Homo sapiens: one gene and its partners. The protein of the gene in region 1 purifies or fractionates together with the protein of each later gene. This does not show direct contact. Each region holds a gene or a part of one and is shown on either strand. Other genes may lie near its edges.

Evidence for each region.
Region 2: the proteins of BCAT1 (region 1) and YEATS2 purify together in Homo sapiens (affinity purification with mass spectrometry; 3 studies listed by BioGRID and IntAct, with this or other methods). This does not show direct contact.
Region 3: the proteins of BCAT1 (region 1) and ZZZ3 purify together in Homo sapiens (affinity purification with mass spectrometry; 2 studies listed by BioGRID and IntAct, with this or other methods). This does not show direct contact.

What each region holds. Positions count from the first base shown.
Region 1 is NC_000012.12:24,809,308-24,813,118, forward strand, and holds the end of BCAT1 (branched-chain-amino-acid aminotransferase, cytosolic), read right to left. Parts: 3' UTR 717-3,811; downstream 1-716.
Region 2 is NC_000003.12:183,700,720-183,704,552, reverse strand, and holds part of YEATS2 (YEATS domain-containing protein 2), read right to left. Parts: intron 1-3,833. UniProt on the Homo sapiens protein: Chromatin reader component of the ATAC complex, a complex with histone acetyltransferase activity on histones H3 and H4. YEATS2 specifically recognizes and binds histone H3 crotonylated at 'Lys-27' (H3K27cr).
Region 3 is NC_000001.11:77,564,059-77,567,658, forward strand, and holds part of ZZZ3 (ZZ-type zinc finger-containing protein 3), read right to left. Parts: intron 2,124-3,600; coding exon 2,023-2,123; intron 1,727-2,022; coding exon 1,582-1,726; 3' UTR 1-1,581.

The DNA of each region.
Region 1 (3,811 bases):
CCCTTCCCAGCCTCTTGTAACCATTCTACGCTCTATCTCCATGAGTTCAATAGTTCTTTTAGATCCCACAAATAAGTGAGAACATGCAAAGTTTGTCTTTCTGTGCCTGGCTTATTTCACTTAGCATAATGACCTCCAGTTCCATTCAAGTTGTTGCAAATGACAGGATCTCATTCTTTTTCCTGGCTGAATAGTACTCCATTGTGTACATGTACCACATTTTCTTCATCCATTCATCTATTGATGGACACTTAGGTTGCTTCCAAATCATAGCTATTGTAAACAGTGCTGTAACAAAAATAGAATTGCAGATATCTTTTTGATGTAATGAGTTCCTTTCTTTTGGATGTATACCTAGCAGTGGGATTGCTGGATCATATCATACCTCAATGTTTAGTTTTCTGAGGAACCTCCAAACTGTTCTCCATAGTGGTTGTATGAATTTACATTCCCAACAACAGTGTAAGAGGGTTCCCTTTTCTCTGCACCCTTACCAGCATTTGTTATTACCTGCATTTTGGATATAGGCCATTTTAACTGGGGTGAAGTGATATCTCATTGCAGGTTTGATTGCACATATCTAATGACCAATGATGTTGAGCAACTTTTGGTCATGTAACTATCTTTAAAACAAATGCAGCTTGATCCCTTTTTAATGTAATCAGTTCAGCTTCAAAAACTGGTATATTGCATTTGGGATACAAACAGTCAACATGAATCTTCCAACTCAATTTATTTGTTTCAGCTCACGAACTTTTCAGAATCCCTAGTGGCTTAGTGACAAAGACCTTTGGAGAGAATGATCATGGGTTTTGATCAACACTGTCGCGATTGCATACAGACATAGCTAGAGAACAAGCCCAGTGATTATTCTACAGACCATAGGAAGCATCTACACCTCAGCTGTCGGCCGTTTGGTTACAGAAATGCGATCCTGCAAGTTGTCACCACTATACATAAAGTCAGGCTATGATAGCATATTTCACTTAAAAATAAATTATCACAATATAAGGCACATATGTATATGGAATCAGATTCATGATTTGAAAAATATGCTTAAATCACACTGAATCAGCTTAGCAGAAAAATAATTATAAAATTTGAAATATCCCCTTTTCTTTTTGTTTTGTACTAAATCAATGTAGAAAACACACTTTCTACCCTGAAGGAAACTGCTGTCTTATCTGATAAATTATATAAGCTCCAGTAAATGTATGTCATCACCCTCAGGAATGACAGGTCTCTCTTTCTCACGCTTGTGGGAATTGAGCGTTGACACTGTAAGAACACTTGACTAATAACCTTTGCCTAGACCTTCCAAACTCTGCGCGTAACTTCTTGAGAGATCTGAATAAAGGCCAATATTTTCACAGGTTGACAGGGTCTGGAGAAGTGGGTCACCGAGCACTCTGACATTTTTAAGTTCAGTTTACAGTAACTCTTTGCAAAACTTCAGGTTTTGCTGTACTTCAAATCATTTGGGCAAATTATAAGAAAATGAATACAAAATGTGTGACCCTTGGGTAATTCTGCACTTGGCTTTGTTCTCCCTTGGTGCTTTTGAGGACAATTTCTGCAAGGCCTGGTTTGGCTAAAAGGGACACTTCATTGAAGATCTCTAGGCCTTTTACTTTTTAAAGTGTCTTTTATTCTAAAGCTAGTTAACCACATATAGAAGTATGGTGTTTATCAGTGATGTAGATCCATTATGACAATGAATGGGAAGAGGTAATCTACTCCCCCCATTCTGTGCAAATCTCAAACGACAAAGCTAAGTTTTACTACAGATAAATCCATAACCAGGGGAAGGAAGAATTTTTAAATGCCCATTTTTTTCTTGTCCAAATGTTTGAAAAAGAAACATATTGAATCTCTATCCAGTGGTGTGGTTTCTGGTCTTTCTGGTGTGCTCAATTCTCTCTGTGTCATTTTGGTGTAAAAATACTATCCTACATTTACTTCCCTTGACCAGAAACCTTGAGACATCATAAAAATGTTAATTTAGCATTATTACTTCATGCATTCAACAATGCTGATTTCATGAAACCACACAAACAGGATTCTTTTGTTTTATTGATAACAGAAACTGTGCATAATTACAGATTTGATGAGGAATCTGCAAATAATAAAGAATGTGTCTATTGCCAGCAAAATACAATTATTCCATGCCCTCTCAACATACAAATATAGAGTTCTTCACACCAGATGGCTCTGGTGTAACAAAGCCATTTTAGATGTTTAATTGTGCTTCTACAAAACCTTCAGAGCATGAGGTAGTTTCCTTTACCTACGATATTTTCCACATTTCCATTATTACACTTTTAGTGAGCTAAAATCCTTTTAACATAGCCTGCGGATGATCTTTCACAAAAGCCAAGCCTCATTTACAAAGGGTTTATTTCTTTCTACTCAATTTTTCTTAAAAAGAATTTCAAGAATCACTACACAGCTAAGATATCTGAGACTTGCAATGGCTGGAGTCTATCAGTACAATAGTAATTGCAATCAGATTCAGATACAAGAGAACAGGTTCTAACAATTTCATAATTAAGTTGATATTCTGTTTCTATCTATAAGCTCACATTTAAAAACTACTTCCTCGAACTACTTATTTTTCCTCAGCCACAAGTAAGCGCAAATCCTTAAAAACAGTGGGTTGAGCCCCAGCTCCATGTATTAGGTAGCTAGGTATATTGTGGGATTATTCCTTGTTAAGTCACCCCAGGAAACATTTGCAGAATTTAGAAATGCATCCAGATTTGTGAGTTTATTTTTAAGACCTGACTAAAAATCTGCACTCTTCAAAAACTTATTGATGAAGTACAAATTGAGGCAGAAATTTACATTCCTTTCTTAACCCTGAGAATGAGTTTAATGATCATAGGAAACTAGTTTGAGGAAACTGCAATGTGTTATTGCACATTTTAGTTAAAAACTAATAGTCAACCAATTTCCAATTCAGTAAACCTTCCACCTATCAGGATAGGAGATAGTAAATAGTATCTCTAAGGGAAAAAAGTCACAATCTACTTCTTGTCTAAACTTATTATTTTATTTGGCCTCAAGAAGCTTCATGGATCTTAGAATAAAATGGTTGAAGAAATGACACAATAGATATTACTTACTATGCTATTATAAAATAAAGCCTAGTCCAAGTTGATAATAATCTAAAGTGGTTTCTATGTAACACAACCTTCAGATTATAACCTCAATAGTGTGACCTAATTCTAATATCTGATGAAGTGTTTGCTATATTTAGTCACTACCTAGTAGCATTATTTGTATTTAGCAACTACATTGAAAGCTGAAGAAGATCTCAATGCTTGACAGAATAAGGAAAAAGCTCCTTTGGATAACACAAAAATATGTTTTGTTTTTTTCCCCTCCTCTATCATTCCTTTCTTCTCTACCTCCACTTATTCTTCCTCTGATATCATCTTTCATTAAATTTTTCTCCAGAATCCAATAGTGAGCAACAGGAAACCTAGCCATTGTGATAGTGGATATGTAGAGAAAAGCCAGTGAAACTATATTTTAATTCATTCTTACACCACAGCCTACATCAATTCTTACCATCCCAACAGTAGATTACATAAACTGAACATCATGCAACTCAAGTTATACGTCTTGTTGATTGGGTCTATTGTAGAATGAAAAATACACTTTCAGACAGAATAAGATGACTTAAAACTTCAATACTTGTATCCAGCAGATTTGAAAGGGCACTTCAAATTTGTTCTTCTTTTTCTCCCCCATCACCCCCATTTCAATTTTTAAGACTGATTTCATGCCTTTATCATTTTGAAGCAAA
Region 2 (3,833 bases), on another chromosome or scaffold:
GATCTTAATAAAAATTAATATTAGCTCACCATGATATGGAAAATAAGACACTCTTCTAATAACTCATGACTCAAAGAAGAAATTAAAACTAAAGTAACAGACTATTTAAAAACTAACGAGAACACAGTATCTCCAAACCTATGGAAATGTGGTCAAAAGTCACCATCAGAGGAAAATGGCAAACAAGCTTTCACTGCAAATACACATACAAATCCAATCCAGCAGGGTATTAAAAGCATAATGCATCATAACTGGAAAGTTTTATTGCCAGCAACAGAAAAAGAAACAAGCAGAACGAACAAAGGCTAAATCCTAAAACCAAAGTGGGGAGATCTAGAACGAAGGGGATTTGTACTACACAAGTCTACTGTTGAAGCTTTAGGAAGCTTTTTTTTTTTTTTTGAGATGGAGTCTCACTCTGTTGCCCAAGCTGGATTGCAGTGGCGCAATATCGGCTCACTGCAACCTCTGCCTCCCAGGTTGGAGTGATTCTCCTGCCTCAGCCTCCTAAGTAGCTGGGACTGCAGGCACCCACCACCACATCTGGCTATTTTTTATTTTATTTTATTTTATTTTTTTAGTAGAGGGAGGGTTGAACTCCTGACCTCAGGTGATCCGCCTGCCTCAGCCTCCCAAAGTGCTGGGATTACAAGCGTGAGCCACTACGCCTGGCCCCTTTAGGAACATTTTAATGAAACTGACTTTCAGTAATCCAAATACATATGATCCATTTCCTGAATTCTATTTTGAAAACTAAATACGGCAGCAGCTTCACCCCAACACCATCCACTCTTCCCAAAGACTGTTCAATGTACACTCTAAGAATATATATCCATTTTAATATTATACTGAGAAAATCATTAGGCATGCAGAAGCCCTATCAAAAAAATCAAAATCTATATTTCAATGTCAATTAAAATTTCTCCACCTATTTAAACATTACTCTTAACACTGTCACCTCCCTTTGATACAAAGAACTGAAAAAACAAAATACACCTGATCGTCTTTCCAAAGTTATGCTCATTTTGTAACAGAAGGAACGAGAAGTTATCTATTAGGTTGGTGCAAAAGTAAAAACCACAACTACTTTTGCACCAACCTCTATTAAAGGACAGACTCAGACCAAGGGAACTCTAGGAGACAGAAGATTCTGTTATGATTTTCACCAGAGTTAGTACCGACAAAAAAATGCTATGCTAATTATTCTAAGTCAGGTCTGACACACAAAACCTTTTGAATATGTTCCCATTTGCTGGCTAACATATCACTTTTTCTTTAACTCATCTGGCATCCAAAACAAAAACAGATCTTTTAAGTAAAAATAATCAAAATTTTATACTGGACCTGAATGGCGAGAAGCTGAGCGATCTGGTCATTAGGACTGACGTGATGTGGGACATTTCTAATAACATGTAAAGAGCTGAGCAAAAGACAGCTGAGCTCAAAAACACTGTCTCATTATTTCAGTCTTATATATTTCCAGGTCAAAAACACCAACTTTCCTATAAATAAAACGGCTTTAAGACTACACAATTTGCTAATATGGTCAGCCCCCAGAATCCATTCTGGCCAGTACGCTGTCTACAACCTTGCAAACTAGCACACAGAAGACTGTAGGATAAAACAGCTCCTCTAAATTATCCATGCCACTGCTTCTCTCCATTAATGCACCTGGAAAGCTGACTTTAGGTAACTTTTACCATTCCCTTTTTTTTTTTTGAGAGAGAGAGTCTTGCTGTCGCCCAGGATGGAGTGCAGTGGCGCAATCTTGGCTCACTGCAACCTCCGCCTCCCGGGTTCAAGAAATTCTCCTGTCTCAGCCTCCGAGTAGCTGTGACTACAGGCGCACACCACCACGTCTAATTTTTTTGTATTTTTAGTAGAGACGGGGTTTCACCATATTGGTCAGTCTGGTCTCGAACTCCTGACCTCAGGTGATCCACCCGCCTCAGCCTCCCAAAGTGCTGAGATTATAGGCGTGAGCTACAGCACCCGGCCACTTTTACCATTCCTTTACCCCACCGGTTCAACTTTCTTTTTCTGGAAGAATGAGGCATGTGGGATGTTTAAGGGGTTTGAGATTTTTAAGGTAATTTTTTTAATTTTTTGAGACAGTGTCTCACTATGTCGCCCAGGCTGGAGTGCAATGGCACGATCTTGGCTCACTGCAACCTCTGCCTCCCGTGTTCAAGTGATTCTCCAGCCACAGCCTCCCAAGTAGCTGGGGTTACAGGCACGCACCACCACACCCGGCTCATTTTTGTATTTTTAGTAGAGACAGGGTTTCTCCATGTTGGCCAGGCTGGTCTCGAACGCTTGACCTCAAATGATCCACCCGCCTTGGCCTCCCAAAGTGCTGGGACTACAGGTATGAGCCACCGCGGCTGGCCTGATGCAGATTGTTTCCATATCATCTGTTCTGTAGTAGTTAGGGGGAAAAAAAGCTTTCGAAGGCTGGAGTTCACTTCATGGATGAGTCGGAATTTGATTCTTGAAGGATGAAGAGCATTTCGGTAAGCGGAGAAGGTAGAGGTGAAATATGAGCCCATTGGAAAGTAACTGTGAGATGTTCAGGCATGTGAACTTTGATGACTGCAGACATGGAGAAGTAGAACTAGTTCTAGGCAAGGGCTGTTTATCCTGCTTGTCTGAGGAGTGAGCTGTGGGGAACCTGTTAAGTGGTTGTAATGAAAGCTGAGGGTGAGGAGAATGCAGTGGGGAGGGGCTTGAACTTTACCTGCAGTGCTTCTACTGGCGATTGTTATGTATTTTGTTTTTAAGTTTTAATTTATTTGAGAGTGTGGATATACTTTTTTAATTGAAATATAATTCACTTAACTTAAAAGGTACTGTTTTAGGCCAGGCACAGTGGCTCATGTGCCTGTAATCCCAGCACTTTGGGAGGCCAAAGCAGGAGGATTGCTTGAACCCAGGAGTTTAAGACCGGCCTGGACAACATAGGGAGACCTTGTCTCTACTGAAAAAGAAAAAGAAAAAAATTAGCTGGGCATGGTGGTGTGTACCTGTAGTCCCACCTACTTGGTAGGCTGAGGTGGGAGGCTCGCTTGAGCCCAGGAGTTCAAGGCTGCAATGACCTACGGCTGCATCACTGCACTCCAGCCTGGGCGACAGAGACAGACCCTGTCTCAAAAAATATATATATTGACCGGCCGGGCGCGGTGGCTCAAGCCTGTAATCCCAGCACTGGGAGGCCAAGGCAGGCAGATCACGACGTCAGGAGATCGAGATCATCCTGGCTAACATGGTGAAACCCCGTCTCTAATAAAAATACAAAGCAAAAAAACTTAGCCAGGCGAGGTGGTGGGTGCCTGTAGTCCCACCTACCCAGGAGGCTGAGGCAGGAAAAGGCGTGAACCCGGGAGGCAGAGCTTGCAGAGAGCTGAGATTGCGCCACTGCACTCCAGCCTGGGCGACAGAGCGAGACTCCTTCTCAAAAAAAAAAAAAATTTATATATATATACACACACACACACACACACATATATATATACACACACCAGTTAAAAGAGTGCAATTCAGTGGATTTCAGTATATTCACAAAGTTGCACAAAAATCACCACTATCTAATTCCATAATGTTTTCATCACTCCAAAAAGCAACCACTTACCTCTTAATTGTCACTCTCAATTCTCCTCTCCCTTCATCCCCCTGGCAACTACTTTTTGTGTGGATAAACTTGCCTGTTTCTGGACATTTCGTATAAATAGAATCATACAGCACGTGGCTTTTTGTATCTGCCTTTTTTTTTTTTTTTTTTTTTTGAGACGAAGTCTCCCTCTGTCGCCCAGGCTGGAGTGCAGTGGCGCGATCTC
Region 3 (3,600 bases), on another chromosome or scaffold:
ATCAATCTTAGAATATTTATACTATCTTTTCCTATAGTTAATAGTAATTTCCAGGAAACAAGGTGATTTTTCAAAAGCCATCTGTTTAAATACATGGGGGCTTATCTTCATGAGACACAACTAGAAAAAAAATTTTCAACTTTAGTTTTCACACCTGAGCATTAATAATTGCCTTTTTCTTTAACCATGGTCCGTGTTTCCTTTTTGTAAGCTAGTTTAATTTAGTGTTTCAGCACACACTGAGTAAAAATCTTTACCATTTTTTACAGGGTTGCTTAAGATCACCCTCTTTTCCATAATACATTCCTTATTCTTCATAAATGACAGAAAGAAAACTCTTAAATATGTGAAGCAAACCATTTTAAAAAATACCAATTTCTGGTTTTAACACTGGTAAAAAAAAAAATCCAAAATCTAACCAAAAGGAAGTCACAACAAGCATTCTATAATATAAACAGACAGTATCCACATAGTTTATTTCTCACAGTTCTCCTGACAAATGAACATCATTCAAGAACATACTGTATACACAGATAAGAAGAAACATACAAAATGTTTTAAATGATGCACAACAAAATCCAGCAGTATAAAAGAATGCATGTGAACCCTTGCTCACTGTGCAGACTAAATTTAATCACTTGTTTAAATAGTAATAAAAATACAATCTTTTATGGATCTTGTGCAGACTACAAAAGAGGGAAATTATTACCATATATATGATTTTTATATTAGGCAGTTTTCTTTGATGAGTTGTACTGACAACTCCAAATACAGAGGCAGAAGGCTGTGTATTTTAAAGGAATTAATGTTGTGAATTAGAAACTTTACACAGTTACTACCACTGGCACTTTTCACCATAGTTTGTACACATCACATGATCATCTTATATAACATTACATTTAAAAAATATATCTGAGTGACAATTTTATAACATTCACACACCATGAGCTGGTTAAGGAAGCAATGCCACAGTTGCCTCCTGTAGTGCTTCACTGTTGGTAATTAAGGACAATTCATTGTGGTTAAAAGAAATTAGATATCAATATGATTAAGCAGCTCCAATTTACTAAAGGCCATCAATGACCACCACTGGGACAGTGAGTTCTTTTAAAGTGTATATCCTAGAAGCAAACACCATCATTGGTTAAAACTTTGTCTAAAGAAGTCAGTTTCTGTGCTGAAAACTATTTTCACAAAACTGAAGGCTACTAAACTGTTTTAATATAAATACTTTGTCTTCTCATTATCATATTTATGACCAAGTTCTTTGAAACCTTTGGAATTTACTCTCTCTTTAATGTGTGCTCTCGTTCCATCTCACCCATTTAAGATCACCACCTAAAACGCAGTGGTGAAAAATTCACCAGGGAAACCTTTGCTCACCAGGAATGTTCAGCTGCTGAACAGTGATCTAGAGCCACAACGGTGCAGAGCTGTACTTGACGAGAACACTCAGGAAGCTCTCATGCTGTGAGTGTCATTTCTGGGAAAGCAGAGAATCTTTCCAAACTGTGCACATAATTAACAATGATACCATTGCTATGTGTTGAAGAGGACTAGTAAATGATGTTCTCTTCCATGTCATCTGTTTGCTGGAAAGTAGTTTGGGTCAAGGTAATTGTAACTGGTGCCCTGAGACACACAGTAGTCTCTGTCTAAGAATGTCTCTGACCTATAAATAGGTTCTAATTGGTGATCTTCCTTGTGAATATCTGTTTCATGTAGACTGTAAAGAAAAAAAGACACACATCATTACATGGTAGTGGATGCATTTTAGTCTGTGTATTACAAAGCTTCCTCACAGCTCTCCCTGTTTAAATCCATTAATCTATCAAAATCTCCAACGGAAAGTTACTTGACATGTGGTATGATTACAGAAAAAAATTAATTGCCTAGAACAACAAAATTTAATTCACTAAGTGTGGGTATTAATATTTTCTATGTTTGGAAATCAAATTCACTAATGGCTGAGAAGCTCTTTTCTTGTCTAAGTTGAAGACTGACAATGAAGAAAACACTTACCAGTCTGAACAAGAATCACAGAAATCCAAAGACATTTCTGGAGGACAATCCTGGCAATGCCACCGAACACCCTGGATGGGTTCTATGCCACAGTTATCACACTATAACAGATTCAGAGAGAAAATGTATTAAGTTATACTGTTCCACGATCTTTTTTATTTTCCACAAGGAAACACATGATGTGCACACAGACATCTTCTCTTCTCTCTCCATGCACAGGACAGTAATATAACACACAAATGGTTATGTGTTAGAGACAATTTCTAGCAAACTAGGTAAAATTCCATCCACTCAATATCAAGATATGGGTGAGTGAGAGGAACATTGGAAGGGATAATCTTCAATCAGCTTAAATTTATTTAAAAATTTTTAAAAGTAAATCATCTCCAACTTGGGTGTTTTGTTATTTGTAATCATCTACTTGAAAGGTACCTCAGACCACTGTATGATGACTATGGTTGAGAAACAGAGAGTTAATACCATAGTTAAAACTATCCAAATACTGGTTAAGGAAGCAATGCCACAGCTGCCTCCTGTAGTGCTTCACTGTTGGTAATTGATACAGAATTGTTTTAGCAGGTTCTCTTGGCTAACATAAACCCAGGCAACAATGAAATTCTGTCTAAACTTTTATCTCTTATTGAATCGCTCTCCCAAAGCCTAAAGACTCCTAATAACCAATGCCCATCATGTCAAAAAGGCAGATCTAGCTCTTTCTCAGCGTGGTGGCATTGTGACAGTCCTCAGTGTGTTCTGTGCACTTTTGGAAATCAAAGGATCTATCATTTCTAGTTTCTTTGATCATCTGGTCAACTATAGTGGCTGACAGAATGGCAAACAAGCCATGGCTGGGTTTTGCAGCAAAATTAGGAGAAGTGAAGCAAGTTTTTCTGAAAGGCCAGAGCTGCCAGTTAGGAAAATCTCTATTGGAGAAACAGGGTCACTGAAAGATCAAGAGGGAAAATCATTTAATATAGTATGGTTACTGGCTACTCTAGAGGATCAAAGGTATAACTTTGTTTTTAATTTGGTTTACCAGTCACAGCACACATCAGTACTTTCATGTGCACCCACCAACACCACCAAGTTTATGGTCTCATTATTACTTCCTCCAGTCCAACCAAGTCAATTCTAATGCCTAAAGGCTTCTCAAACTTGCCAATCTTTATTTCCATGGCCACCAGTCAAGTTCAGGACACCCTCCTCTTTTGTCTAAATTATCAAAAGAATCTCTAACCAGTTTCCTTGACTCTAGTCTTGCCTTCCTCTAATTAAGTTTCCATACTATGGCCAAAATGATGAGGGGAAAAGCTGGTCAGTTCCAAACCCACTGCTTTCCTAAAGATCATCACCCCCAATAGTTTAAGTAACTAGAATGATTCTTTCCAAAACGTAAATGTCATGTTACTTTCTGCTTAAAATCATTCAATGGTTCCCCCCACCAACCTCTCAGGATAGTGTGAGCTCCTTGGCAAAATTTATAAGGCGGTGCAAGCAGCCTCTAACTACTCTCTAGTATGTACTCTAGCCACGCTCAACTATTTTGTTTAACTTCTCTAAATTCCTTATGAGAATGAA